Linked DNA regions of Homo sapiens. The protein of the gene in region 3 interacts with the protein of the main gene of each other region in a biochemical or structural test. Each region holds a gene or a part of one and is shown on either strand. Other genes may lie near its edges.

Evidence for each region.
Region 1: the proteins of SIAH2 (region 3) and RBBP8 form a complex in vitro, tested with the Homo sapiens proteins (2 studies listed by BioGRID).
Region 2: the proteins of SIAH2 (region 3) and PEG10 form a complex in vitro, tested with the Homo sapiens proteins (one study listed by BioGRID).
Region 4: the proteins of SIAH2 (region 3) and EGLN3 form a complex in vitro, tested with the Homo sapiens proteins (2 studies listed by BioGRID).

What each region holds. Positions count from the first base shown.
Region 1 is NC_000018.10:22,978,324-22,985,352, reverse strand, and holds part of RBBP8 (DNA endonuclease RBBP8), read right to left. Parts: intron 3,136-7,029; coding exon 2,960-3,135; intron 468-2,959; coding exon 363-467; intron 1-362. UniProt on the Homo sapiens protein: Endonuclease that cooperates with the MRE11-RAD50-NBN (MRN) complex in DNA-end resection, the first step of double-strand break (DSB) repair through the homologous recombination (HR) pathway.
Region 2 is NC_000007.14:94,659,347-94,666,375, reverse strand, and holds part of PEG10 (retrotransposon-derived protein PEG10), read right to left. Parts: intron 3,043-7,029; coding exon 1,842-3,042; coding exon of another isoform or gene 694-1,841; 3' UTR 1-693.
Region 3 is NC_000003.12:150,753,158-150,760,186, forward strand, and holds part of SIAH2 (E3 ubiquitin-protein ligase SIAH2), read right to left. Parts: intron 1-7,029. UniProt on the Homo sapiens protein: E3 ubiquitin-protein ligase that mediates ubiquitination and subsequent proteasomal degradation of target proteins.
Region 4 is NC_000014.9:33,927,060-33,934,088, forward strand, and holds part of EGLN3 (prolyl hydroxylase EGLN3), read right to left. Parts: intron 4,157-7,029; coding exon 4,037-4,156; intron 2,154-4,036; coding exon 2,017-2,153; intron 1-2,016. UniProt on the Homo sapiens protein: Prolyl hydroxylase that mediates hydroxylation of proline residues in target proteins, such as PKM, TELO2, ATF4 and HIF1A. Target proteins are preferentially recognized via a LXXLAP motif.

The DNA.
Region 1 (7,029 bases), on a different chromosome or scaffold from region 3:
TCTATCTGACATAAATTTTATTTCTCCCTCAACTAGATCATAAGCTCCATGAGGACAAGGGCTTTGTTTTATTCAGTGCCTGGTATACAACAGATGCTTCAATATTTGTTGAACAAATAAGTAAATCACAGTAAAGCCTTCTTTACTTAAAATTATTAGTAATTTATATTAATATGATTAGGGATATTTATATGAATAGGATAACATTACTTTCCAATATGAAAAAGATAGTAAACTAGTAATATAAACAAAATTATATGGAAAATACCTTTAAAATATTGTCTAAGTTAGACTGTGGGTCACTGTTACCCACCAATAACCACAATTTTAAACTTGTAAAGTAATCTCAGTATCTTGCTTACTGGCCATTGGAGATTGACTTTGGTCATAAGTGTCAGCTACTAGAATTTCATTTTCATTAGGATTATGTTGTGGATGAGTTGAAGACTTGGAAACTTTTCTCATTTCTAAGGGGAGAAAAAAATAAGAGATTACACAATAAACAATGATGATGAAAAGCATTATCAAATTATTTTTATTTATTCATATTTAAAATTTTTATGTATTATCTGTATTTAAATCCAATATAAGTACTGTTTTATTGACATAATTATCATATTCTAAGAAGTAAGCTCCTTTAATTTCACTAAGAAACAAAGCTGTTTAAGTTAAGACATTGGGAGAGAGGGGACTAGAACAGACAGCTTCTTCTAACCCAAATTGCCTAGAGTAGTAACATTTTAGTGTTACTTCTCTTTTTATATTTGTTACAAATCAGCAGGTTAATTTAAAAAGGTATACTGGGCTGGGCACAGTGGCTCATGACTGTAATCTGAGCACCTTGGGAGGCTGAGGCAGGAGGATCTCTTGAGCCTAAAAGTTCCAGGCTGTAGTAAGCTACAGATCACACCACAGTACTCCACCCTGGATGACAGAGTGAGACCCTATCTCAAATAATCAATCAATAAACAAATGATCAATCAATCTAATGTATACTATATCATTTATCTCCATGATCTTTGTTTTAGAGTTTCTATTTTCGGGAAGGAAACTCTGAAGCATGCTTTATCAGAAATCACTCCAATATTTAAAGATTTAGTTCAAAGAAAACCAAAATAAGGACAAGGTAAAGTGAAATGGTTTTACTATTTATAACTTGAGAGTAATATTAAAAAGCATTATAAACCTTAAAATAAGCAAGCAAGGGAAGTTAGAGAACAGGACTAATTAGTCATTAAAGCATTTAAAATTATTATTATTATTATTATTTTTGAGATGGAGTCTTGCTCTGTTGCCCAGGCTGGAGTGCAGTGGCATGATCTCAGCTCACTGCAACCTCCACCTCCAGGGTTCAAGCAAGTCTCCTGCTTCAGCCTCTCGAGTAGCTGGGACTGCACGCGTGTGCCACCACGCCCAGCTAATTTTTTATATTTTTAGTACATACAGGGTTTCACCATGTTAGCCAGGATGGTCTCGATCTCCTGACCTCGTGATCCACCCACCTTGGCCTCCCAAAGTGCTGGGATTACAGGTGTGAGCCACCGTGCCCGGCCTTAAAATTATTTTAAAATCATTTGTATGGCTCAAGGTTATCGTACATCTTAAAACCAAATTTCAGATTCCAAGTAAAAAATGATCAGAACAAGGTTAAAGCAAGTGAATTAAATTTCTAAATAGTTACATGCTGCTTTCATACAAAGAAGAAATAAACCAGAAGCATTTATATTGGTTACAAAAGACTTTCCTAATATGGAATTGTTTTCTAGATATTCTTATTTGTGAATTTAAACCTGATGTAAATTATGCAGTGATTATCTTTAATGATTCATGTCCTGTCTGATAGCAAACTAAAAGGTCAACGGATATTCATTTTAGATCTATGATTTTACATTTTAACTTAGCTCCTATTTAAGTGTAGGATTTTTAACAGTTCTTTTGTTTTCCACTAGATGGTGATACAAACGCTTATAAAGTGGGGGAAAACTGTCAATGTTCCAACATCTAAGAATAAGATCTGCTTATTTGTTTAAAGGCATATTTACTGTCAACAATTTATTTGTATTATACAAATATAGTAGTACATATATATCCCCCGTCCCCCATGCTTTCCTTGTTGCAAATAGTTTAGGTTAAAAATTAAAGTCTTTACTGTTTGCTTTAGATTAATACTAAAAGTAATACTTGTATCATGGCACATAACAAATTTTGGGACTATGTGAAAAGACAGTTTTAAAGCATTTAGCAGAAATGATAAACTAGGCTGGAATTAGAAACATGTCACTGAAAAGCCACAAAGTGTACATATTATAACACCATTTCTTGATTACCACTAACTCCTACAAATTACAACAAATAAAAATAGCCAGTTACAGACAGCTCCAATGGCAGGAGTACCCATGTGGCAAGACCTGGAGAGTAGGAAAGTTCAGAGCTAAGAAGATCTGTATTTGAATTTTGACTCATCTACATAATAGCTGACCTTGAGTGAGTTAACCTTTCTAAACATATCTTTCCTCATCTATAAAACAAAAGAGCTGATAGTTATCTCACAAGCCTGTTACGAGAATTAAAACATAGCAATAATACATGCAAATCACTCAGCATAATACCTGGTACACAGGAGGTAGAAATTAACATTAAGTTCCTTTCCTTTTTCCTTCTATCCCACTTGGATATATACACATAGGAATATTTTTAAAATAAAAAGAAAAAAGAAACTATTTACTACATTTATAAAATATGGTATATTTACATGTCATATAGATGACACGTATCTATACATAACACGGGCAGAAAACGCCTTCTCAGTCACTTTACAAATAGAAGTTAAACTCATAGTTGTACCATGGGATACCAGAATAGTGACTATCTTCTTATCACTAGATTGAATAACATAAAAACTAGTAGATGAACACTGGTTTACAAAACCAGAGAACTAAAATACAACTCCAACTCTTACCATTTGCACACACAGAGTGCTCCAATTTAGTATGTGTTTGTTCTATGTATCGGACATGGGGGTTCTCCTTTCTTCGTAGCCGGTTAACGCCAGAAAATGAGAAGGCTGTTATCGGTGAATCTGGAATAACGTCTTCCTCACATTCAAGCTCAGCTGCTTGATGCTGTTGATCATTCCTAGAGAAGAATGACAATGGAAAGAAAATCAATTCAATGAGTATTAAAACATTTACTACATGGCATGGAGTTACAGTAGAACACAAACATGAAGCTCTAAGGGATGTAATCCCTTGCATCTAATGTTCCAAACCTAAGTAGATAAGTACACGAATGATTACAGTACCCAGTGGGAAATACTATGTGAGAAGTGAAGTAGAAAGTATAGTCAATAGCACTTCAGGTGAAATTAAAAGTATTTCAAATTGCAGACAAGATCAGGAGAGAACCCACAGTCTGAGGAAAGGCATGCAGTACTGTGTACTTATGTTGGAGAAGGGAAAGCTGGAATTACATGAACGAGAGCCATGAGCTCAATGTGCACATAATGTAGAAAGCAAGAGGAAAGAAATTAAGGTTTTAGAGCTTGGATATAATGTGACAATCTAACAGTATTGTGCAAGATTGGGACAGAAGGACAGGAGGCAAGGAAATCAATTAGTGGCTATAATAGTCCAGGCAAGCCGCTCTGTCTGCGGTCTGAACTAGAATATTTTAAGTACATATGGAAAGGAAAGAACGTTAAACATCATGGTAGTAGAATTAGCATGCTTGACAAATACAGGATGAGAACACTAACAATGATAACAACCAATTTTTGTTATGTGTTTACACTGCCCGGCACTATTTAAATTATGAGTTTAATTATCACAACTCTGTGAGGTATTACTACTTTCATTTTACAAATGAGGAAATGAAGATACAGAAGTCATTTACTAAAATAGTAACAGAGTCAGGATTTAAATCTCAGCAGTCAGACCCTAACAATAACACATTGTTAACCAAATGTGTTATCCATAGTCTACAAGAAGGCTTCAAAATTTGAGTTTCTGTTACTGCTTTTATCTAGGCCCCCTTATAGTCTACTCTCAACAACAGTCACAAGAGTCCTATTAAGAGATAAATTGGGGCCGGGCGCGGTGGCTCACACGTGTAATCCCAGCACTTTGGGAGGCTGAGACGGGCAGATCACAAGGTCAGGAGATCGAGACCATCCTGGCTAACACGGTGAAACCCTGTCTCTACTAAAAATACAAAAAATTAGCTGGGTGTGGTGGCAGGTGCCTGTAGTCCCAGCTCCCGGGAGACTGAGGCAGGAGAATGGCGTGAACCCAGAGTCGGAGCTTGCAGTGAGCTGAGATCGTGCCACTGCACTCCAGCCTGGGCAACAGAGCGAGACTCCGTCTCAAAAAAAAAAAAAAAAAAAAAAAAAGACATAAGTGGCTCACACCTACAATTCCAGCACTTTGGGAGGCCCAGGCAAAACCCTATTGCTACGTACAAATATATTAAAAAATTTGCCAGGCGTGGTGGCACACACCTGTAGTCTCAGCTACTTGGGAGGGTGAGGTGGGAGGGTTGCCTGAGCCCAGGAAGTCGAGGCTGCAGTGAGCTATGATCATGCCACTCCACTCCAGCCTCGGCAACACAGTGAGACCCTGTCTCCAAAAAAAAAAAAAAAAACCCCAAAAAGACTTAAGTCATATGGATGAAATCTCATGAAAACCCTGTCACATCTGCTCATTTCACTGAGAACACAAGCCAAAGTCCTTTGATCCATGAAGATCCTACATGACCTGATGGTGCCCCTCCCATTTTTCCTCTCTGACCTTTTTTCCTATTATACTCTACTCCTGCCACACTCTCTTCCTTGAGGTTCCCCAAACACACCAAGCATACTCCCACCTTAGGTTCTTTGCACCAATTGTTCCACCTGCTTGGAATGCTCATCCCCAGATACCTACATACCTAATTATCTCTCTAATCTCCTTCAAGTCTGCTGGAATTTTACCGTTTAAAATTGCAACCTCCCTTCACACACCCTAGTACTCCTGTTCCCTGTTATTCTGCTCTATAAACTTTATCCACAGCATTTACTGCTTTTTAACATAGTATGCAATTTACTCATTTTTATTTATTTAGATTTTTTTTTGAGTCTGAGTCTTGCTCTTTTGCCCAGGCTGGAGTGCAGTGGTCCAATCTCGGCTCACTACAACCTCTGCCTCCTGGGTTGTAGTGATTCTAGTGCCTCAGCCTCCTGAGTAGGTGGGATTACAAGCGTGCAACACCATGCCTGGCTAATTTTTGTATTTTTAGTAGAGACAGGGTTTCACCACGTTGGCCAGGCTGGTCCCAAACTCCTGACCTCAAGTGATCCACCCGTCTCGGCCTCCCAAAGTGCTGAGATTATAGGCGTGAACCACGGCGCCCAGCTGCAATTTATTTATTGTATCTATTGCTCACCTGTTAGAATATAAGTTCTAAGAGGATGGGATCTTTGGTTAACCGATGAATCACAAGAGCCTACCACAGTAGACATACAGTAGGTATGGCGTAAACATTTGTTGAGTGAATAGGAGACATTCCCAGATTCCACTAGAGAATAAATTTGTGTGGATCTAGGCATATGTTCTTGCCCAACTCAATTCAGGATCAACTGTAACTGAAAGATTGGGTTTGAATTGAATTGTGAATGTTGAGTAAAAATAAAGTTAATTGACTTTCCCATGTCAAACCATTACTGACCTTATTTGCCAACCAATTGTTACCAGTCTGTCAGACATTTAGGCTTTACATGACCAAATCAGTCTGTCCTATTAGACTCGTATCAACTTGCAATACTATTTCCAAATAAAAGCTTATATAGTGAGAACTGTATGAACTATGACCAACAGAGATTTTTAAGAAACATTAATTGGAAGACAAAGACTAATTTTTCCCAAAAAAGATTTACACTTTAATTTCCTGAATGATACCAATATTATTTGTAGGCTTTAATCCTACATTTTATACCAAGGAACAATCTTTAGAGCTAATGTCTAATTATTTAAAATTTTTTAAATTTTAAATAAAATAAACATAAACATAAAATAAAATAAACATAAAATTATTTAAAATTTTATTTTATGTTTTTGAGACGGAGTCTCCTTCTGTTGCCCAGGCTGGAGTGCAGTGGTGCGATCTCAGCGCACTGCAACCTCTGCCAGGTTCAAGTGATTCTTGTGTCTCAGCCTCCCGAGTAGCTGGGACTACAGCTGCGCGTGCAACCATACCTGGCTAGTTTTTGTATTTTTAATGGAGACAGGGTTTTACCATGTTGCCCAGGCTGTCTCAAACTCCTCACCTCAAGTGATCTGCCCACCTTGGCCTCCCAAAGTGCTGAGACTACAGGCATGAGCCACTGTGCCCAGCCAAATTTTATTTTTAATTGACAAATAATAATTGTATCTACTTACTGGGTTCAACAAAATGTTTTGATACATGTTTACAGTGTAGAATGATTAAATCAAGCTAATTAACATCTATCACTTCACACACTTATCTTTTTTTTGTAGTAAAAACATTTAAAATCTACTTGGCAGTTCTGAAATATACAATCATTATTAAGTCACCATTCTGTGCAATAGATCTGATATCTAATTTTTTAATCTCTTCCTGTAATTTTCTTATTCTGGAAAAACAGTAAGTTAAAGTCATATGAGAAAGGCTTATAAATTAATGGAGTGTGAAATCTATCTGACCTAGCTTTAACTAATCACGTCACAGCCTGCTTGCCTATTAGTCATAAAAATTCCACCTGAAACATGAATGAGTCACGAGAAGCAATTGATTTCCTGGCAGAGTCAATGTGGAAGAAGCTGGGATCACAAAAGGAAAAAACAAAAAAACAAACAAAACTAGCTCTAACTAGAGGTGCCCAAACTAAGTAAATGAGTGCTGGCTTTGTCTTCCTTTGTCATAAAAGGAAAAAACAAAACTCCATATGTTAACCAAGTTCATCCTTTAAAACACTAGTCTCACTGATTTTCTGAGAGAAAGAGTTCACGTCACAGCTTTTGGTTAAATTAATTATGC
Region 2 (7,029 bases), on a different chromosome or scaffold from region 3:
TTTTCAGGCCTGAGATGTTTCATGTCACAAGGGTTTTTCCTGCTCCTGGGAGAACCAGTCGAGTTGCTGCTCCTTGAGAATTAACAGAACCATGGAAATGGAGTTTGAAGACGGTGAAGTTTCTAAGGGTGCAGCGAGAGGATCACGGAAGCCTTTCCACACTGCACCGATAATTTTGGCTTCCTTAATAAGGCCTCAGTCCTCCAGTGATTTAAAAAGAGGGTACCGAAACCGCAAGAAAAGTCATGTCCTCCTCCTCCTCGTCTCCCCCTCCATAAAGAAATCAGCATTTCCTGCGTTTGTATCAGCTTCTCTGTAAATGTTAAACAGCAAATTTGGCAGCCTATAATTTAGATGGTGATGGAGGTTTTGGCAGGTAAAACCCAGACTTCCAGGACTGGCTGGAAAGTAAACTTATTAATTATTTTAGTTAGATTGGCAGTCAAGGTGGAAAAATGAGAGATCATTTATTGGCAAATACTCTGTTGCTCTCAGAAAATGTTGAAGGTCTTTTGGTGCTTTAGGATGTGTGCCAGTCCAGAGTGGCCCTAACCTTCCATAGCCGTTTCAGAGAGGATGTGCCTCAGGTGGCCTGAAGATACAGTAGCCTAAAATTTAGCACACAGTCACTGATTGAGAAGCTGAACAGGAATAAATTTTGAGGGCAGAGATCCTGAAGGACATGACAGGTATTTACAGGGTACTGTAAGATGGAGGCGGCGGCGGTGGTGGTGGTGGAGGCGGCGGCTGTGGCGGCGGGTACTGTGGTACCGGAGGCTGGCGGTACCAGTGTGGATTCCAAGTGATCATCACAGGTACATATAGTGATCTTCCTTGTCCGTCTCGTCCCACTGGGTACCAGGCGAATCCTACTGGGTAGGTCGGGTACGCGGCATATGTGGGGTATGTTTGGTATCCAGGTATTTGAGGTACGAATTCAGTGTACGTTGCCAGGTGTGCTTGGTCTTCTAAATTTGGAATAGATAGGCGAGGATACTGATTCTGGATAGTAAAATTGTTTGGAGCTCGGCAATCATAAGAAACTTGCAGTTTCCACCCCCTCTTCACCTGGAGAACTTGGGCTCCATTAGGTGCAATCGTTGGAGTAATTAGCCCATCTTTTACATTTCTTGCCACAAAATCTCGAAGAGCTGCCATTTCAGGTTCGGACAGTGAATACACATGTCCACTGGGAATACTGTGTGCTCCAGGTATCATTTCTATGTGAGGGTCAACCAGGCGGTGATCTGGGTAGACGTGCTCATCTACTGGAGTGTACACATTCTGGACATAGTAATACCTCACTGGTTGGTAAACTCTGTATCCATCTACTGGATAATAGAGTGGCGGTTGTGGTGCTGGTGGTGGGAGCGATGGTGGTATTGGAGAATACATCCGGCAGTGGTAGCGGCAGTATTCAGAATCAAAGACGATAGATCGAGTGCTCCATGTGATATTGGGATCATGTGTGCTCAGCCAGCGAACCCCTAGGACGACAGGGAAGAATGGAGACTGAGTCACATCAAATGACAGCACCTCTCGGTGATCTCCCAGGTCAACTATCAGGTCGTGAGTTTCGTGGACAACTGGGCCCGATGCTATGGGGCGCCCATCAATTGCTTCCACAAGTATTGGCCAGTCCTTGATTCTTAGAGGAATTCCATTTTGAGCAACATATTCGTGATCAATGAAGTTGCCAGAAGCACCAGAATCGATCATGGCTCGGACGAACAGGGTGTGTCTGCCCGGAAGATGAATCTGGAGCATCACTTGCAAGTGTGGAGATGAGGCATCATCTTGTGGGGACCTTATTATTTCTGGCCCGGTCGCTGAAGGTCCCTCTACAGCGGGGCCGGGGAGTTTCCCGCCGGCGAAGACTTTGAGGCCTTGGCAGGACAATTGTCAGCGTAGTGACCTCCTGTTCCACAGTAGAGGCACAGGTTCAGCTTTCTGCGTCTTTCTTTTTCTTCCTGCGTCAGGCGCATGCGGGCACCTCCCACCGGCTCGGTTGGATCTACCTGGTGGTGGCTTGCAATGTGAGGCAACACCAGCGCCCGGGGTGGCGAGCGTGGCTTGCGAGCTGCAGCAGCCCTGGCCAGCCTTCTCTCAATGTGAATGCACTGCCCAATCAGAGCAGACAGCGACTTGGCGACCTCGAGGTGGGAGAGCTCCTCCTGAATGTGGTCGCTGAGGCCCTCGTGGTACTGGTCAATCAGCGCAGGCTCGTTCCAATCCAGGTCCTGGGCAATCATCTGGAAAGCATTGGAGTAGTCGATGACAGACCCCATGCCTTGGCGCAGGCGTCTGATCTTGCGTTTGGCAACCTCTCGCCTCTGAGGGTCTTCAAAGACATGCTTCATTTCCATCATGAAAGCTGGGTAGTTGTGCATCAGGTAGTGGGAGCGCTCCAGCTTTGCTGAGGCCCAACGGGCAGCACGGCCGGTCATCATGCTTGTCACGAAGCAGACACGGACACGATCAACTGAGAAATCCCTGGTGCTCTTTTCCATGAAGATCTGGCACTGGGCCATGAAAGGAGCCAGCATGTCTGGGTTGCCATCGAACTTCTCTGGGAGGTCTTCTGGGCACTCTTCCTCTATTGGAGGGGGTGGGGCAGCAGCTGCTGCAGCACCGCGGAGCTCGATGTCATCATCCTCATCCTCAGGGGTGGGTTCCACTTGCTCTCGAAGGGTGGTGTTCTCCTCTGTGAGCTTCTGCACCTGGCTCTGCAGGTTGTTGTTCTCCTCCGACTGCTTCATGACCTTCTCTCTTAAGTTGTTGATCTCTTCAGAGAGCTCGTCCCTTCTTCGTTCGGTCATGTTGGGGACACACGCACTCTTATGGCCGGTGTGCTTGGAGTTGTTGTTGTTGTTGTTGTTGGGGGGAGGGGGAGGAGGAGGAGGTGGGCAGTCGGGACCCAGGGTGACGGTTGGGGTGGGAGGAGACCTCCCAGCTGTAGCTTCACTTCTGTGGGGATGGAGGCCTGGATCCTGGCCCCCTCTTCCACTCCTTCTTTTTTTTGTTTTCAAAACCCGCTTATTTCTGTAAATAAAGATAAATGTATGTATAAATCCAACTTATACATTCAAAGCAGCAAAAGCAGACACAAAGGATTTGGTATTTAAATTATCCCTTGCTCTACGTGCTTACATTAATAATTAGTGAACAAAGAAAATAAACTCTCAAGAGAAAGTTAGTAATCAGCACCATATATAACAAAAAGCAAAGTACTTTTTGATGTTCAAATGACCTTGTCTTCCTCAAAGGCCACCTGTTCATTATGATTCAACAATACATTATCAACAGCATGCTTACCTTTATAAACTATAAAAGAATGTTGAAACCCTCTAAACAAGTAGTTTTGTATTCAAACACAGCAAGAAACTTCAAGGCAAACATGGATACAAAATCAATTATGCAAATTAAAGCCAAAATAATAACTTTTGTTATTAAAGAAGCCAGGCCAAAAATAGTTAATACTGCAACTAATAGAATCTCATTAAAGCAAGAAGGGAGTATTAAAATCACAATGCATGTATTCATCAGCCCTGTGGGCAGGAGGGTACTCTGGCCAACTGTCACAACCCTATTCCACTGCCACCGAGAAGGTAACTGGTTATCAAATCAAACAACCACCACCACAAAAACCACAGGACTGCCTAAATTACTTTTCTGACCATAATTTAAATCCCCAAAGAAAATTCTCTATGGGACAGAAATGGCACTAAGCAGCAATATGTGTATGTCAGTTTCCTTTGTCATTATGCAGTCATTCAAGAAATAATAATTGATGCCTCCTAGGAAAAGCTATAAAATGGGACATTCAAAGAAGCCCAATAATAGTATACCTCAAACTAATTATGAGGACTTAATTAAATAGTGCAGGTAAATTATGTAGTGAGTATTCAACAATGGTTAGCTGATATGAACAAAGTTATTAATTAGAAAATAGAAAGGTGACTATCTGTGTAAAAAGAGTGGGATTAAAAGAGGGAGGGGCTGCAACTATAGCAACATGGGCATGCATTTCCCACCTAAAGACATTTACTTTTTTAAAAATACTGTGTTGGTCAAACAAATTCAAGGCCTTATTTGTCTTGCAGTTTACCAGTTTGTAATCCATAGTTTTTAATGAAGATTTGTCAGCATAGCCCCAAATGAAGGTTTGTAATGTTAAGGTGGGACAGGGCTGCACTCCTAGGGGGTGAGTGGATGTGTGTGGGGAGGTGGGGGTAGGGTGTGTGTTTAAGCATTCTAATTATGAGTGTAATGACAATCACACACATAAAAATCCTGACACAGTGTCTGCCTGTGTACTTCCTGAAAATACAGTTAAATGCATTTAGAATGATTTAATTATTTTAAATTTTATTAATAATCTCAAGTCCCATATTTGGAAAATTTAAATATATAAAAAGTTTAAAACATAATATGTAAAAGTTTAAAAAAGTTTAAAAAACTTTGATTTAAAAAGTTTAAAACTTTTAAAGAAAGTTTATAAAACTTTTAAATAAACAAAAGTTTAAATACATAAGTTGGTCCTCTCTGGATACTCACTATGTGATTTACCTGCAAAAATGGACGCCAAATAAATTACATAGAATAAGGCCAAAAAGATACACAGTTGGTAATTAGAGAAGTTAGGTGAAAAATAGTTACTATTTTCAACCAATAGAGTACAAGAAAAAAAAAAAGTGGTAATTAAACATGATGCCCAGCCCCTGGCTGTAAAGAAATGCTCCTTCCTCTCCAACTCCTAAACTCTTTAGGTACCTCCCATGCCCCAATGTCACCACCCACAGATACTATCCCTGTGTCCTTTGCAGTTGGTGTAGCCTCTCCAAGGAGTGGCTATACAGCAAGCAGGGTCTTTAAGAGACAGGGAGTAGTGTGACATTTTAACAGTTTTAACCCCACTACTTAATTACTTTAGTAACTTAGGCTATAAAAACAACAAATAATTGACATTCAAGATAAAATATTCAAGTTTAGAAAAAATTAGAAAACACAATAAACACATCATAACCCGTGACATTCAGTATCATTTCCAACTCCTTAAAGACAATTGTATTGCTGACCCTGACAATATAACATCACAACATAATGCAATTTTTCCTTATTAAATTAGGAGTTTTCATGTCCCATTAATGAACAACTAATAACCATAAGTAAGGTGACTAAGGTACCACTTTTGTCATCTAGACATTAATATCTTCAAAACCTTGAGACAAGACTTCCTAAAGAGCATTCACAGCATGGCCTGGTGCAGCCTGACCACTTGTCAATCACGGCCACTAAGTGGGGCTTTATTGAAGCCCAGGTCTGATGGTTTTATTATCTGCAAAAAACAGTGATGGGACAGAAATAACAATACATTAGGAAATCAGCAAATAATTACTACATGGTTTAGGGAAATAAAAGATCAATAAGAGTTAAAAATTCAAATACCTTTGGTATATAAGGAAGGTAGTTGAAAAGTGAAAAGAGACCAGAGTTAAGATGGGAGGGGCTGCAACAATGGAACTTGGGGGTGCATGCCCTCCCCCTTACCACCCTCCCCACCCCTGCCCCCCTGCCACCAGACATTTCATTCTTTTTTATTTTTTAATTTAGTTCCTGGTCAAACAAATTCAAGGCCTACTTTAGCCTGCAAGGTCACTAGCTTAAGACTTCTGACCTTTGCCAATAACAAGCCTGAGGCCTTCATATGAGGGTTGGCAAGTTTAGGGTGGGACGTTAAAAGAGACAACTGCCCAGGGAACAGTAGTTTATCCATTAAAAGTAATAGGGTAATGGGCAGGCAGGTTAACAGTGCGTATAAAAATGTTTAAACAGCGACTGAGGCAGCACAAGTTAACCTGGGACAAGAAGCATGTTTACTTGATTTGAATTATAGAACTATGTATGGCTCCTTAAACTCCCCCTTAGTAGGGGCTGCATTGGAGGGGAGGGGTCAAGAGGTCTCATTCCTGAAAACTGAAAGGACAAACTGCATAAAGCCAAGTTGCCTAGGACAGATGCCATCTTTACATGATAATAATTTCAGTTTTAGTCTTTTTAGGAAATAAATACATTTGGTTAATTATTGACTCTTCACAATAGCTTGGAATAATTTCTATTCCACAAACACACCAAAGAGCAATAGTAGCCAAAAACCATAAATGAACATCCTGTTAGGAAATGACATCTCATTAAGCAACTCTTAGTTGCTTCATATTTTCAAATGTCCAATTTTTTAGTACTATCTTGTACTATTTATGAAATGCAAATTCTCTTAATATGCATGTTATTACTGTTGTTTTGAACCTCTTCAATATGCAAATATACAATATCCAAAGAGAAGGGAAAATTACTTAAAGCTGTAATTATGATAAGCACAAATTTTCCATAGATTGTGTACTTGTGGTGGGGAGGGGGTATGTGACAGAGATTTTTGGGAGCCAAAGCCCCCAATTCCTCCCCTACCAAAGTCCTGGCTCATGATTTGTAATATATGGAACCAGGTTTTAAAATTTCTTCATTCAGCTGGAAACACAATTCTTACATGGTACCTCTTACTAGCAATCAGTTATAAATTTGTTTTATACAGTTGTTTAATTTTGCAAGCTGAAACAACCTATATTTTGTAATGTGGCCACTTTATATTACATTACACAAACTTTAATACAATATGTACCATTAATAATACACTTGCCCCAAATTTAAATTAGCTTTTTATGAAAAAAGCTAATTATTTGGAATAACTAGCTTTTTATGAAAAAAGCTAATTATTTGGAATAACTAGCTTTTTATGAAAAAAGCTAATTATTTGGAATAACTAGCTTTTTATGAAAAAAGCTAATTATTTGGAATAACTAGCTTTTTATGAAAAAAGCTAATTATTTGGAATAACTAGCTTTTTATGAAAAAAGCTAATTATTTGGAATAACTAGCTTTTCATGAAAAAAGCTAATATTTGGAATAACTAGCTTTTTATGAAAAAAGCTAATTATTTGGAATAATTAAAATTAATTTAGTTGCTTTGTATTA
Region 3 (7,029 bases):
ACGGGCTCTGCCCTATTGGCACATCTGTCTCCACCAGTAGACTTAGGAGAGTTTCAGAAAGACGAGAGGGGTGAGCAGAGGCAAGAACTGGCTAGGCAGATGGGTTGTGGGAAGGAGAGGGCCTGGAACTGCAGGAGATTCCAAGGCAAGAGTGAGTATGATGTAAAGTTGGTGGGGTCAGCAGCGGCCAACTCTGGCCTGACACTGCACCAGGGAGAAAAAGCAGGCTGTGGCATTAAGAAAACCAAAAGGTAACACCCAATGTCGGTGCTGCTGGGAAGAAATGGACATTCAACTGTAAACCATTCTAAGGGAGAAAACAATTTGGTTCTACTATCAAAAAGCTTCAATTTCTCAGGCCGGGTGTGGCGGCTCATGCCTGTAATCCTGCCACTTCAGGAAGCTGAAGCCGAATCACTTGAGCTCAGGTGTTCAAGACCAGCCTGGGCAACATGGTGAAACCCTGTTCCTACAAAAAATACAAACATTAGCCAAGCCTGATGGTGTGTGCCTGTAATCCCAGCCACTCAAGAGGCTAAGGTGGGAGGATCCCCTGAGCCCAGGAGGTTGAGGCTGCAGTGAGCTGTGATTATGCCACTGCACTCCAGCTTGGATGACAGAACTAGACCCTGTCTCGAAACAAAAAACAAAAAAAAAACACTGAGATTTCTGCATATACCCTTGGGCTCTACCATCCAACTTCAAGGAATTTAACTTTAGGAAATAACTATATTTTTGTGTACAAAGATTTGGTTATAGCAGTGCTTTAAAAAAAAAATCTCAGTAAGAAAAGAGAATTTAAATGACCACAAATAGGAGCCTGATTAAATAACTCTGGTACTGTTATAGAACTGCAATATGTGGCCATTAAATATGATCCTAAAGAATATTTATCACTGTAGAAAAGCAGTCACGATGTGTTAGATAAAGAATGTGTTAGATAAAGAAGCAGATTATGAAACAGTGTAGACAATAGGATTCCTCACCTGTATTGTTCTATTCTCAAATTGCTACAAAGAAATACTTGAGACTGAGTAAGTTATAAAGAAAAGAGGTTTAATTGGCTCACGGTTCTGCAAGCTGTACAGGAAGCATAGTGGCTTCTGCTTCTAGGGAGGCCTCAGAAAGCTTCCAATCATGGTGGAAGGCAAAGGGGGAGTGAGGCATCTCACATGGCAAGAGCAGGAGCAAGGGTGGGAGAGGTGCTTCACACTTCTTAAATAACCAGATCTCATAAGACTCACTATCATGAGAACAGCACCAAGAGGATAGTGCTAAGCCATTCATGAGAAATCCACCCCCAAGATCCAACCACCTGCCCCAGGCCCCACCTCCAACATTGGGGATTACAATTGAACATGAGACTTGATGGGGACATAGACCCAAACCATATCACCATCTCACTTGTTTTGTTTTTGTTTTTGTTTTTAAAGAAAAACTCCACCGATGTAGAAATAAGTTTGCAAGGATGTATGCAAAATGGTATAGTGGTTATCTTTAGGTGAGGGAGATTATAGGAGATTTTAATTTTATACTATTTTCTATATGTTCTACATTTAAAAATAATCATAACTTTAGAAAACATAATATGTAAAAATACACAAAATATAATACATATAATTTAAAATGCTGCTTAATCTAACCAGTTTTCCCTCTCAAAAAATTTAAAGAAATGAAAAAAAATCCTCATCACTGAAAAACCAATACAAGGGCCAACTTACACAGCTCTATGAAAATGCTATATGATTAAGAGTAGGGAAGGGAAGCTCATTGGGAAAATCTATGGGAAAAAATAGGAATGATTCCTTTTTTTCAAGTTTATGCATGAACCTGACCTCAGACATCGGCCATTTAGTTTCTGTTAGCTTCTAACTGAGCACATTTATTTAGTGCCTGGGCTGTGTCAGGCACTTTGCATGAATTATTAGTGTGTTTGGTCCTCAAGGCAACCTTGAGGCTTGGAGAGGTCACCAGCCAGTCACAGTGGGGCTGGAGTTGGGATTTGGACCAGGCCAGATGAGGGGCTGCCCTCAAAACTGCCAGAGTTAGAGGGATCCTGGGGGTAAAAGGGACCCAAAGATACTATCTTTGCTGATTCAAAATTTTAAAGCAGTGCATAGGCCGGCGCATTAGCAAAAGAATATTTTTCTTTTTCTTTTCTTCCCTTTTTTTTTTTTTTTTTTTTTTTTTTGAGACAGGGTCTCACTCTGTCACCCAGGCTGGAGGGTATTGGCAAGATCTCAGCTCACTGCAGCCTGGACCTCCTGGGCTCAAGCGATCCTCCCACCTCAGCCCTCTGAGTAGCTGGGAGTATAGACACGAGCCACCATGCCCAGCTAATTTTTGTATTTATTTATTTATTTTTTTTATTTTTTGAGACGGAGTTTCACTCTTGTTGCCCAGGCTGGAGTGCAATGGTGCGATCTCAGCTCACCACAACCTCCGCCTCCTGGGTTCAAGTGATTCTCCTGCCTCTCAGCCTCCCAAGTAGCTGGGATTACAGGCATGCGCCACCACGCCTGGCTAATTTTTTATTTTTAGTAGAGACAGGGTTACTCCATGTTGGTCAGGCTGGTCTCGAACTCCCAATCTCAGGTGATCTGCCCGCCTCGGCCTCCCAAGTGTTGGGATTACAGGTGTGAGCCACTGTGCCTGGCACAAATTTTGTATTTTTAGTAGAGACGGGGTTTCACCATGGTGGTCAGGCTGGTCTTGAACTCCTGACCTCATGATCTGCCCTCCTCAGCCTCCCAAAATGCTGGGATTACAGGCATGAGCCACCACACCTGACCAGGAATATTTTTCATCCATCTGTATATCACCTGTGGGCAAAAACTGAGAACAGGAAAACCCTTTTATTCCATAGATGCTACACAGTCTAAAAATCATTACATAAAATCTTTACCAAACTGGAAATGAGGAAAACAACAGTTTTGCAATCTAGGGCAAAGCTGATGAAATTCTGTAGAGCATTTCAGTATCCTTCATCAGCCTTAAAAGGATACCCCGAATCTTAAAATAAAGATACATTTGATCAGGAAGACTTTCTTATTTTCCTTTTCAGGATGTCCAGCGTGGAACCACATTCAAATACCCTGTGTATGATCATGTCCTGAAAAACTCGCCAGCAATACACAGTGGCTCCAAATGCTGGCACTGGTACACAGTTTAGCAAATGTGTATCTGCTACGTGCCCCTTTCAAGGAGTGAGGACCTTATGGGTTTGAATAAGAACGGCCATGTCTCACAAATTTTGTCAGAAGCAAAATCTGATGCTTAAGACATTTTACAGTGAAGCCTCACTATATTCATGTATACAGTACTTTTTAATGGGGCTTCAAAAAACAGCTCTACCACAGAACGGGAGAGTCTATCCCAATCTTGGGCTGGTATTTTATAGGCCAGACCTGCTGTAACTTTTGGTAAGCCTCTGTTCTGGTTATACTAAGGCTCAACTTTCACTGATAACTATTTACTCTAGTTCCAGGTCATGGTGACCTGTGAAAAATCTTTGGCCAGTTATGTGTGGAATTACCATTAAGCTTAAGTACTGCCATATAGTATTCTAATGCTTCTGCTTTATACAAAAAGTAAACTACAACGAAAGGTGTATTATCAATTTTGTTCTTTAAAATCTTGAGCCCCGGAGTTAATGTATGTGGACTCTGGTCCTTGCCAGTTCACTCTGTGCTTTTATGGGCCAACCTTGCCCATGTCAGGCAGTAGTGAGGACTTCAGGGACAACTTCCAAAGTAAATAGTTTTGTGTTAGGAGAATTCTGGGGGTTAGGAAGAAATTTTTGAAAGTATTTTTGGCTAATCGGCTTGTGCTTCCTGCTTCCAGGTGATCCCCCATTGCAACCTTCCAACCACCCCAATACCCCCCATATTCCATTCCATATGGTGAAGCAAAAGCCCTCAACAGCACTTCTAATCTGATTTCCAAGCACCCACTAACTAGGCGTCATCTCCGTTCTTTCTAATGGATGAACAAACAGGGTCAGGGAAGTATGTGACTGGACCAAAGTCACACAAAGCCAGGACGAGAACCCAGGTCTTCTGTTTCCTGGCTCACGTTCTTTTCACTGGGACCGCTTACTATATTTTAAAATTTTAGGGTAAGAAAGAACCTTGGGATAATCATTTAGTCCAATCCCTTCTCTTAAAGACCCTCAGGTGCAAAAAAGAAACTGACCTGTATAGAGTCAAACATCTAGTCACAAGGCCATCATCTGAGGGTTCCTGATGGCCAGAAAATAATATTCTCTTGGCAAAATGAAGATGAAAAGAAAACAAGCTACAAAATCACCAACAGTTAGGGCCTAACAGAGTTCCAAAGTTCATGTATGGCAAGAGTTAAATGAGAACTTCCAGGCTCAAGGAATGCTTCTACAAGAGAATCAGATCAGAGGCTGCATGCTGGCAGCTGGAATTTGGCCTGGAGACGTGGTGGTTCGCTTTGTCTGCAAGTGGTGGTTATACATGTGAAGTCAGCCAATGCTAGAAAAAAAATCGAGATATTTAACATAAAAAAAAAATCCAGGCTGGGCACGGTGGCTCACACTTGTAATCCCAGCACTTTGGGGGGCCGAGATAGGAGGATTGCTTGAGCTCAGGAGTATCAAGACCAGCCTGGGCAACATAGTGAGATGACATCTCTTAAAGGAAAAAAAAAAGATCCAGATTTCTGGCTTTTCTTGAAAAAAATCTAAAGGTCTGATATGCCTGTACCCACATCCCCAACCCCACCAATCAGCCAGAGGTGAGTAAAGGCTGCCTCTTGGGAGGTGGCACCTGTTCTCTGGCTCTCCACCATCTCCACTGCTCCTCCAGGTCTCCCTGACCCTGAGGCCATGAGTGCATCAAATACTTCTCTCCTCTCCTCTCCTCTCATTACATGGCCCTCCTCCCATTTAGAAAGTTTGTCTCCACTGAACTAGATGAGGCCAAGGGATTTTAAACTTTCAACTGTTTTGTCTAACCTTACTTGGTTTTATGTTATTTTTTATTTTTTTAAGGAACACAGACATTGTCACAATTCAACCACAGAGAAGACTTGTCCAGCTGAGGCTTTCAAATTCAATAATTATTTGGAGATATGCTACTAGAAACTTTCAGAGAGGACAAAGAAAAGGTATCATTACAGTGTAAGAAGGCTGGAGTGGATTAGCATTGCTCACAGTTGTAGAGAGAAATACTTGGCTGATATCAAAATACATCGTTGGATGGTAAAGTAGACTATGTTGTTGATATGAATGTGTCAACCTTCACTTCTCCCCCTAAACCCACACACTGAAGGGGTGAGTTTAAGTCTGGGCACAGGATGTCAAAAGTTCTCAGGCATGGAACAAGCCACAGAATGGATTAAAAAATACCCCAAGCGGAAGAAAGCCATACACTATTAGACATTCCATTTTTTTTTTTTTTTTTTTGACACAGAGTCTTGCTCTGTCACCCAGGCTGGAGTGCAGTGGCACAATCTCAGCTCACTGCAACCTCCACCTCCTGGGTTCAAGCGATTCTCCTGCCGCAGCCTCCTGAGTAGCTGGGATTACAGGTGCCTGCCACCACACCTGGCTATTTTTTTTTTTTTTTTTTTTAATGAGACTGAGTTTCACTCTTGTTGCCCAGGCTGGAATGCAATGACGTGATCTTGGCTCACTGCAACCTCTGCCTCCCGGGTTCAAGCAATTCTCCTGCCTCAGTCTCCTGAGTAGCTGATATTACAGGCATGTGCCACCATGCCCAGCTAACTTTTTTGTATTTTTAGTAGAAACGGGGTTTCTCCATGTTGGTCAGGCTGGTCTCAAACTCCTGACCTCAGGTGATCCACCCACCTCAGCCTCCCAAAGTGCTGGGATTACAGACGTGAGCCACTGCGCCTGGCCCTAATTTTTGTATTTTTAGTAGAGACAGGGTTTCACTATGTTGTCCAGGCTGGTCTCGAACTCCTGACCTCAGGTGATCTGCTCACCTCTGCCTCCCAAAGTGCTGGGATTACAGGCATGAGTCACCACACCCAAAGATCTGAGCTAATAATGCATCCGGTTCCCCATATCAAAGGTGCTGGCAACACTCTAGCCTTTAATTAATTACCCTAAACCTAAGTGGGATAGTTATTTGGCAATACATCCATTTTTTTGCCAACTGAAGCAGTCCAGAGCTGTGATGATACCCCACAAAATACTAGGTTTGTAGGTTTCCCCCACCCTCCCATCTTCCTACCCTACATGCCCTACAAAATTCCTGCCAATGAATTTCATAGTGAGTATGTATGTTGTCATTTTGGGATGGTCCCATAAGAGGCCCATCTGGTGAACTCATCCAACCAGACGGTTTTGTTACTGGTGTCAACCTTGAGTTATGATTCAGAATCTTGAGTATACACTCAGATTCGAAATCCCTACGTAGTAAGGTGTAGGACAAAACATCTGTGCCTTTGAGATGCAGGTGCTTGGACTGGTCCTCTTACTAGCTGTGTGATTTGACAAGTCACTTCACATTTAACCACTCTGTAGGCATGAGTTTCCTCATCTGAAAAAAAAAAAAGGCAAACTAGTAAAAGCTGACCCCTGCAAAGTAACTGGCAGATAGAGGGCATCCAATAACATTCCAGATAGCCTCCCTTCTTTTCATAGAATGCTAGAAGCTACAGGTCCTTAGAAGTCAAGCAGATTCATCTCTCATTTGTATAGATGAGGAAATCAAGGCCCTGGGAGGTGGTCTTTCAGGCAAACAGTGGCAGCTCTTGAGATGTGGGCTCTGGTACTTTATTCAACGTTGGTTTTTTTCACATGAGCCAGCCCATGAGAGATTCTGAGAGCAGGTGGGGACAGTAAAAAGGCAGTCCCATAATTTCTAGGAGCCTCAAACTGTAGGCCAAAGGGCTAGGTAAACAGATCTGCCTTGTTTTAAGTTTGATACAGGCCTTACGGCTCTCTGTTGTTTCTCATCCTCTACAACTAACACATCTTGGTTGGTCGCTGGGCCTATGTATACATTCAAGTTTGGTTTATCCAGACTAACTGGC
Region 4 (7,029 bases), on a different chromosome or scaffold from region 3:
AAGAGATTTAATGGTACTACTAGAAACACAAATGTCCTATAAATCTCACATTAAAAGTTTTAAAGTTTTCTCTATTATTAGAAGTCTACCCTGATTTATTTATTTATTTATTTATTTATTTATTTATTTATTTTTTGAGATGGAGTCTTGCTCTGTTGCCAGGCAGAGGCGTGATCTCGGCTCACTGCAACCTCCACTTCCCAGGTTCAAGCGATTCTCCTGCCTCAGCTTCCCAAGTAGCTGGGACTACAGGTGCACGCTACCACACCCAGCTAATTTTTAAATTTTTAGTAGAGATGGGGTTTCACCATGTTGGCCAGGATGGTCTCGATCTCTTGACCTGCCCACCTCGGCCTCCCAAAGTGCTGGGATTGCAGGTGTGAGCCACCATGCCCGGCCTGTCTACGCTGATTTTAATTTAAAATTAACTTCTCTGGTTTTAATTCTATTTCAATGTAATAAAATGCATAAGGAATTCCAGGTATGTGCCAGAAATTATCTTGGGCATTAGGAATTCAAATGACCCTGTGATCAGATCTTCCTCTGCGATCTCAGGCTCCAAGTAGGGGAGACAGGTGATTTTGCAATAATGCAACAGGTAAACATAGCCTCTACAGAAAGGACTAGAAGGGAGTCATTCTGCTAAAGACTGGGAGACCCAAGTTGGTGGCGAGAACATAGAGAAGAGATGACATTTGAGTGAAGCTTTGAAAAACGACTTATGTAAATCACAGTATGTTTAAAACTCTTGGCTTGCTTTCTTTAGTTTTGGACATTGAGGCAAAATTGCAATTGAATAATAATAATGCCCCAGAGCTTTCTACTGCATCCCCACTAATTTGCTTTATCCCATTCATTGGATAGACTGTAATGGGAGCCATTTCATGCTTGGTTTTTTTTTAAAGTTTCATTTTGTAATGATTGTTAGCTACTTCCGTAGCTAACAATTTCTATAGCACTTGAGTTTTTTTCAAGGGACTTCTCATCAACATTTGCTAATGTTTTCCCTGTAAGGCCAGTCATCATGAGATTGGGGAATAACCAAAGACTTCTGCCACAAACAACAGGGTTTAGTTACATACCCCATAAAACACAAAAGCTGACTTCAGTGGTAGAATTCGTTCCCTGCTCATCTAGAAGACATTCCGATTTGGCAGTTAATATATAACTGGGTTTGGGGCTAAGCTGTGTGACTTCCGGAGGAGGGCACATGTGATCTTAATTTAATTAGGCTTGTTAGGGTTTAATCATCATCCTACCAAAATTCTCTCCTCCTGCCCCTGAATGCTAGTCTCAGTATAAGCTGCACTCCATAGCCCTCCAATGCTGCCCGGCTTATTGCTTTAGACACAGACAAAGGTAAATGAGAGGCAGAATTGAGAATGAAGATTTTTTGTCAAGATTGTCTAGATTGGTCCTAAACAATACTAAGGTGTTCAGTTACTCTGAGAATCTTCATGTGCACATGATAAAGAAAAGATTAATAAAACATCCAACTGTTGGACCATGGATACAGCAAGCCCAAGCCAATTTCAAACCAAGGAAAAGACAAAAAGAGAAAGTCAAAACAAATTACTCTTTCTCTTCTCAAGGCTCTTTCTCTGCTTGCAATTAGCAGCTTGTAAACTCATCCAAAGTAACCAGACAGAATTCCTGATATGTGACAGCCAACATTCTCTAGGCATAGTTCAACATTAGGTTTTTTAAAAAAAGGGAAAGAGAGATAAGAGAAGGGAGGAAAGGAGAGAAGAGAAAAATACTTTTGAGAAATTGGAATCCAATATGCTCATCTAATAGAAAACAACTTGTTAATAGTACTTTCAAACTGAGGTTAGGTTTGATATGCTAAAGAACGCAAAGTTTCCCCTTTAATTTTTGTAGACTCCAAACAAGTTTGCTATCAGCTATGGGGTGTGGTCAATCCCCCACATGCACAGGACACACGTTTAAAGAGTTCTCTGGAACTAGGGTTTGTACACCAAGCTCCGGAAGAGGAATCATGGCTCCGGCTATTACCTGGTTGCGTAAGAGGGCTGCACTTCGTGTGGGTTCCTACGATCTGACCAGAAGAACAGGAGTCTGTCAAAAATGGGCTCCACATCTGCTATGAATGATTTCCCCTCTGGAAATATCCGCAGGATCCCACCATGTAGCTGAAAGACACAAAGAAGGGGGATTATTTCTTACCTCTCATGTAGTTTATCAACAACCATATTTCAGCTCCATTTAGAAACATGCCATCTGCTAACCACCACTCCAAATGCATGGTACCCCAGATTTTTACTTCAACCTCATAGTTTGTACCAATTTGAGATGGAGTTTCACTCTTGTTGCCCAGGCTGGAGTGCAATGGCACGATCTCGTTTCACTGCCACTTCCACCTCCCTGGTTCAAGTGATTCTCTTGCCTCAGCCTCCCGAGTAGCTGGGATTAGAGGCATGCACCACCATGCCCAGTTAATTTTGTATTTTTAGTAGAGACGGGGTTTCCCCATGTTGGTCAGGCTGGTCTCGAACTCCCGACCTCAGGTGATCCGCCCACTAGGGCCTCCTGAAGTGCTGGGATTATAGGCATGAGCCACCACGCCCAGCCACTTCGTACCAAATTTTATATCAAACTTAGCTAGAGATATCTCCTTATTCACCTTAAACCAAAAAAAGCACTCCCACCCCCCACAGTCATAAAGCCCATGGACGTAAAATAGAGTACTATTAGATTGAATCATACCGATTTGCCAATATTTGAGTGTTTTTGACTTAAAAAAAAATGCCCAGTGATCTCACATGGTTCCATCTAACCATTAACAACTTTCTAAGAAAATCATCACATGTAACTTCCCCTTCAATTAGAATTTACAGCTCTTCTGAACTCCCTTAGCTCCTATCTGACCTCATTAGTTGGAAGTTACATGCTCTTTTTACTGAACTCTCAGACCACCTAATCTGCACCTTTTATGACATACACCACTCTCTTCCTTGAATTATTTTTTTTACATGTCAACCTATTTCATCCTACTAGAATAACCATATTCAGAGTAAAGTTCAGGCCTCACACATCAATGTTTCTTCATAATACAACGCCTGACACTAGCAGGAACTCAAATATTTGTTAAATGATTCCAGACCTTGCAATTTATTATTACCAGTCTGATAACTTTATTCTCTTGTCTCTATCAGCACCTCTCAAGATTTTAAAGGAGACTTAATGGATGTATTCCAGTCATGTTACCAAACAGGGAGAAGAGATAGGCCTTTTCACTGATTCAATGGTTTCCCAAGTTTCGTTTTTCTGACTCTGGATAAATATTATTGCTTTATGACAGCCAGTATTTGCCTAATGAACAGGAAATTGAGATGCAGAAGGTTCAAAAGCCAAATAAGCTTGAAAAGTTATCTGACTTCCCAGACTCCTAAATCATTCTTAACTTTCGGAAAGCATACAGAGTCCAGATGAATGTCTGTAAGCATGGAACCAGGCTTCATATCTCCATCTATCTATAAGTTCTATAATACAAAAATAAGCCACAAAGCCTTTGGCATTCACAAACCATAGTAAGCCATGGCAAGCAGCCATCAATGAGACATACCACCCCGAGGGAGAGGACTGTGTGGGAAATCTCTCTTGGGGATGGTTTTATAGCCTACAGTTCTATTTTTGTGGAACTTTCTCAATGCTGCTGCTGGGAGGGAAAAGTGTATATCCTATTCTGCATTGAGTCAGAACAACTCTGAATTAAACTGAAAAAAATTAATCCTTAATCCTAATATCAAATTACCTTCCCTTCATCAACCACCCTTCCCAGAGGTAGGGTTAATAATCACCCTACCTACCCCACTCCAAATTAACTTCATTGTTTTCTTCTTAACAACTTTAGGACTAATTCCATTGTCGCAGGAGGTTATGAAATGGAAATAGAAATGTTTCATCAGTGGGAGATACGGCAACTATGAACTCAATATAAACTCTCCTCTAAGTTATCTGAATCATTTTCCTGTAGTTTCTAACCCCACACTCTACTCCCATTATTCAAAAGTACCTTGGCATCCCAATTCTTGTTCAGATAGTAGATGCAGGTGATGCAGCGACCATCACCGTTGGGGTTGTCCACGTGGCGAACATAACCTGTTCCATTTCCCGGATAGCAAGCCACCATTGCCTATGGAGAAATCCCAAGAAAGCTGGTTAACAAAGCTGAGACAGACAATCTTCTCCTCCCACTGGTGAGCAGATAAGTAACACAGTCTCCTTGGGTGTTACGTGACATTTACAGGTAGTTGCTGGCTTCTTAATTTCATGTATGGTACATAAATTTGGACTCTTCTGTGCACAATGGCCAGGTCATACTATGGCTCTGCCCAGTGGAAAGTAGTTCAACAATATTCCCACAGTTCTAGAACATTTTACACAGTCTTTCTTAAAGTAACCTATCTGCATGCCCTGTTTGCATAACCTGTTTGTATGCCCTGCCTTTCTTCAATACTCCTTTTTGGAAAAGCAGTTTCTAGTTTCCCATGCTACAAAATCAGAGTCACTAGGTGTGGAGTTTAGGGATTATGACTGTTTAGCAAGTGCTGCTGAATCACTCACACTGTTTCAGAACAATGGCTAAAGGTATTTGCATACACAAAGTGACAGAACTAATCACCAAAGGAGGAAAAGGTCAGGCTTACTCAATAAAATGCTCAGGATAGAAAGAATAGAGGAAGATCAATAGGAAGCCGCACCCTAACTTGTTAACACAGACAACACAGGGAGATTCCTTTCAGGAAAAAAGCCATGCATGTATCTTAATATGTGTCTTCTTCCTGATAATTATGTAATCAGGTGATAATCTGAAGTTCTCTTTGTCTAAGTGCTACCTGTATCAACCAGGTGGAAGAATAAAGTAGAAAACCGTACCAAAAATCCTACTGAAAATTACCATTAGAGTAAACAGACCTCTAATTGTTCCAAGGGAAAAATTATAACACAGAGTGGGGAGGGGGAAGAAAGCAAAGTATAGAAAGCCAGTTCTTTTCTTCACAGGATACCGCCATGTTTGAAAAATATTTTTTATAGGGATGCAGTAGGTGCAAGGAAAATATTAGAACCAGCAACACAAGATGAGGACAGGGATTTTTTTTCCTGTTCTACTCACTGATGTATTCTTAGCACCTAGGACAGTGCCTGACATACAGAAGGTGTCCATCTAAAATGTGATAAATAAATCAATGAACTAGCGAATGGCTCTTTCTCTAAAGAGTAAGTTCACATTTTACCTAGATCAATAGCTATTTCTGTCATTTTAAAAGACCTATCTTCAAACATACATGTAAAGATCCAGGCCATATATTTCCTGATAAATGGCAGCGTTGCTTCATTGGTAAAATGACCGTTTGAGTAGAGCCCCAAGCTAATGGGCTAGTGGTTCAATGAATCAGCTTCAACGTGGCTGCCGAGTCACTCTCAATAGTAGCATGAAAACACGGAACTAGGCAAAACACACCTTGCATGCCAGATCAATAATAAGGCTGAATAGTAACTGGACTTTACAACAATTTTAAAGCTTAAATCACCATCTCTCTCAAACTTCATATCCTCATGCAGCAAACAATCCCCATATCCTGCCTTTGAACATCAAAATGTCAATGTGATGTCATCCTTAGAGCTCAAGTTAGGCTGTTAGCTTGAACATCTTTCAGAAGGTGAAACTGTGAGGCGACGTCAGCAATGAAGATTTAACAAATGATGGTACCACTAAGCAAAGCATGGCTTGAGGAAGGGTGATTGGTAGCAAACAGAATTGATGGGCCTAGCAAGAGAAGAAGAGACAAATAAAGTCACCTATAATGACTAAAGAATTACCCACCCCTGGAAGCAGCTATTAGGATTATAAGAGCCACCACAGAGCCAATAATGAAAGTCGCTTAAGCCACAAACAATTACAGGCTGGATTCCCTATTATCTCAGGCTCCCCCCACTGAGTGTGTCTGAAAAGAAAAAGTATGACATCAATGCTATAATCTTATATGCTTAAACAGCTCTTCTCTAAGGAAAAGGTCAGTGGTCTGGATGCCTGCCATAGTTCACTCTGCAACTAACTGTGATCCCAGGCTGTCTCTTTCCTATAAAGAGGGGATTGGGTTACGCAGCTGTCAAAGGCCCAAGAAGATCTAAGACTTGATCTAAGCATCAACCCTTGAAAAAGCAACATAGTTCTTCAGGTCATTAAGGAGTGTTTCTCTGCCTCAGAACTCAGCTCAGATTAAAATATTGAAAAAAAAAAAAAAGATGGATACAAACTCACAAAAGTAAATCCTCTACCAAATGCCGCATCTATAAAACACACAGAGACAAAGCCAATTCCAGAGGACTTACTATTAGGACAAAACCCCTACATGTCAGCAAAGTATCCGACTGCTTAAGAGGGAGGCAAAGAGATAATTTTTCTGGCCAGAGTGAACATTCACCCTCTCTCCTGGTTCCAGAAACCACATGCATCAAGTTGGAAACAATGGAAGGAAATCATTTCGAGCATCAGTGGGCCAGTTGAGGCTACATTTGGCCAATTTTATCAGTGTGTTTTCTGGATGAGTGCCATAGGAGATGGGTCTTTGCTTGGGCACATTCCCAACTATTTGCTCGTCTTTGACAGGGTCTAAAACCATGAGGCTAAGGATGCACCGAGAAGCAAGCCTGACTTCAATAACTAGCCATTCACTTCTGTGCCAATTTGTGCACGGGGCAGTAACAAACTCCGGAAACAGATCAGTCCAACTGAGTTGCTATCTAAACCTCATCAAGCCGGGGAAGGGATTTAGTGTTTAACAGAAGAGAAGTCTTCAATGCTTTATTGTTAAAAGAACGGGCCAGAGTAATTTAATGATCATATAACAAACATGCCAAGCAATAAACTGACACATATCAAGAGGATGCCTACTTTAGTACAGGCTTTTTATTTTCTAAAACTTCCTGACTAGATTAATATTTGAAGTTTACGCAAGTTTAACACAGTAGTGTCATCTACAGCAGCACATACAGTATAGTCCT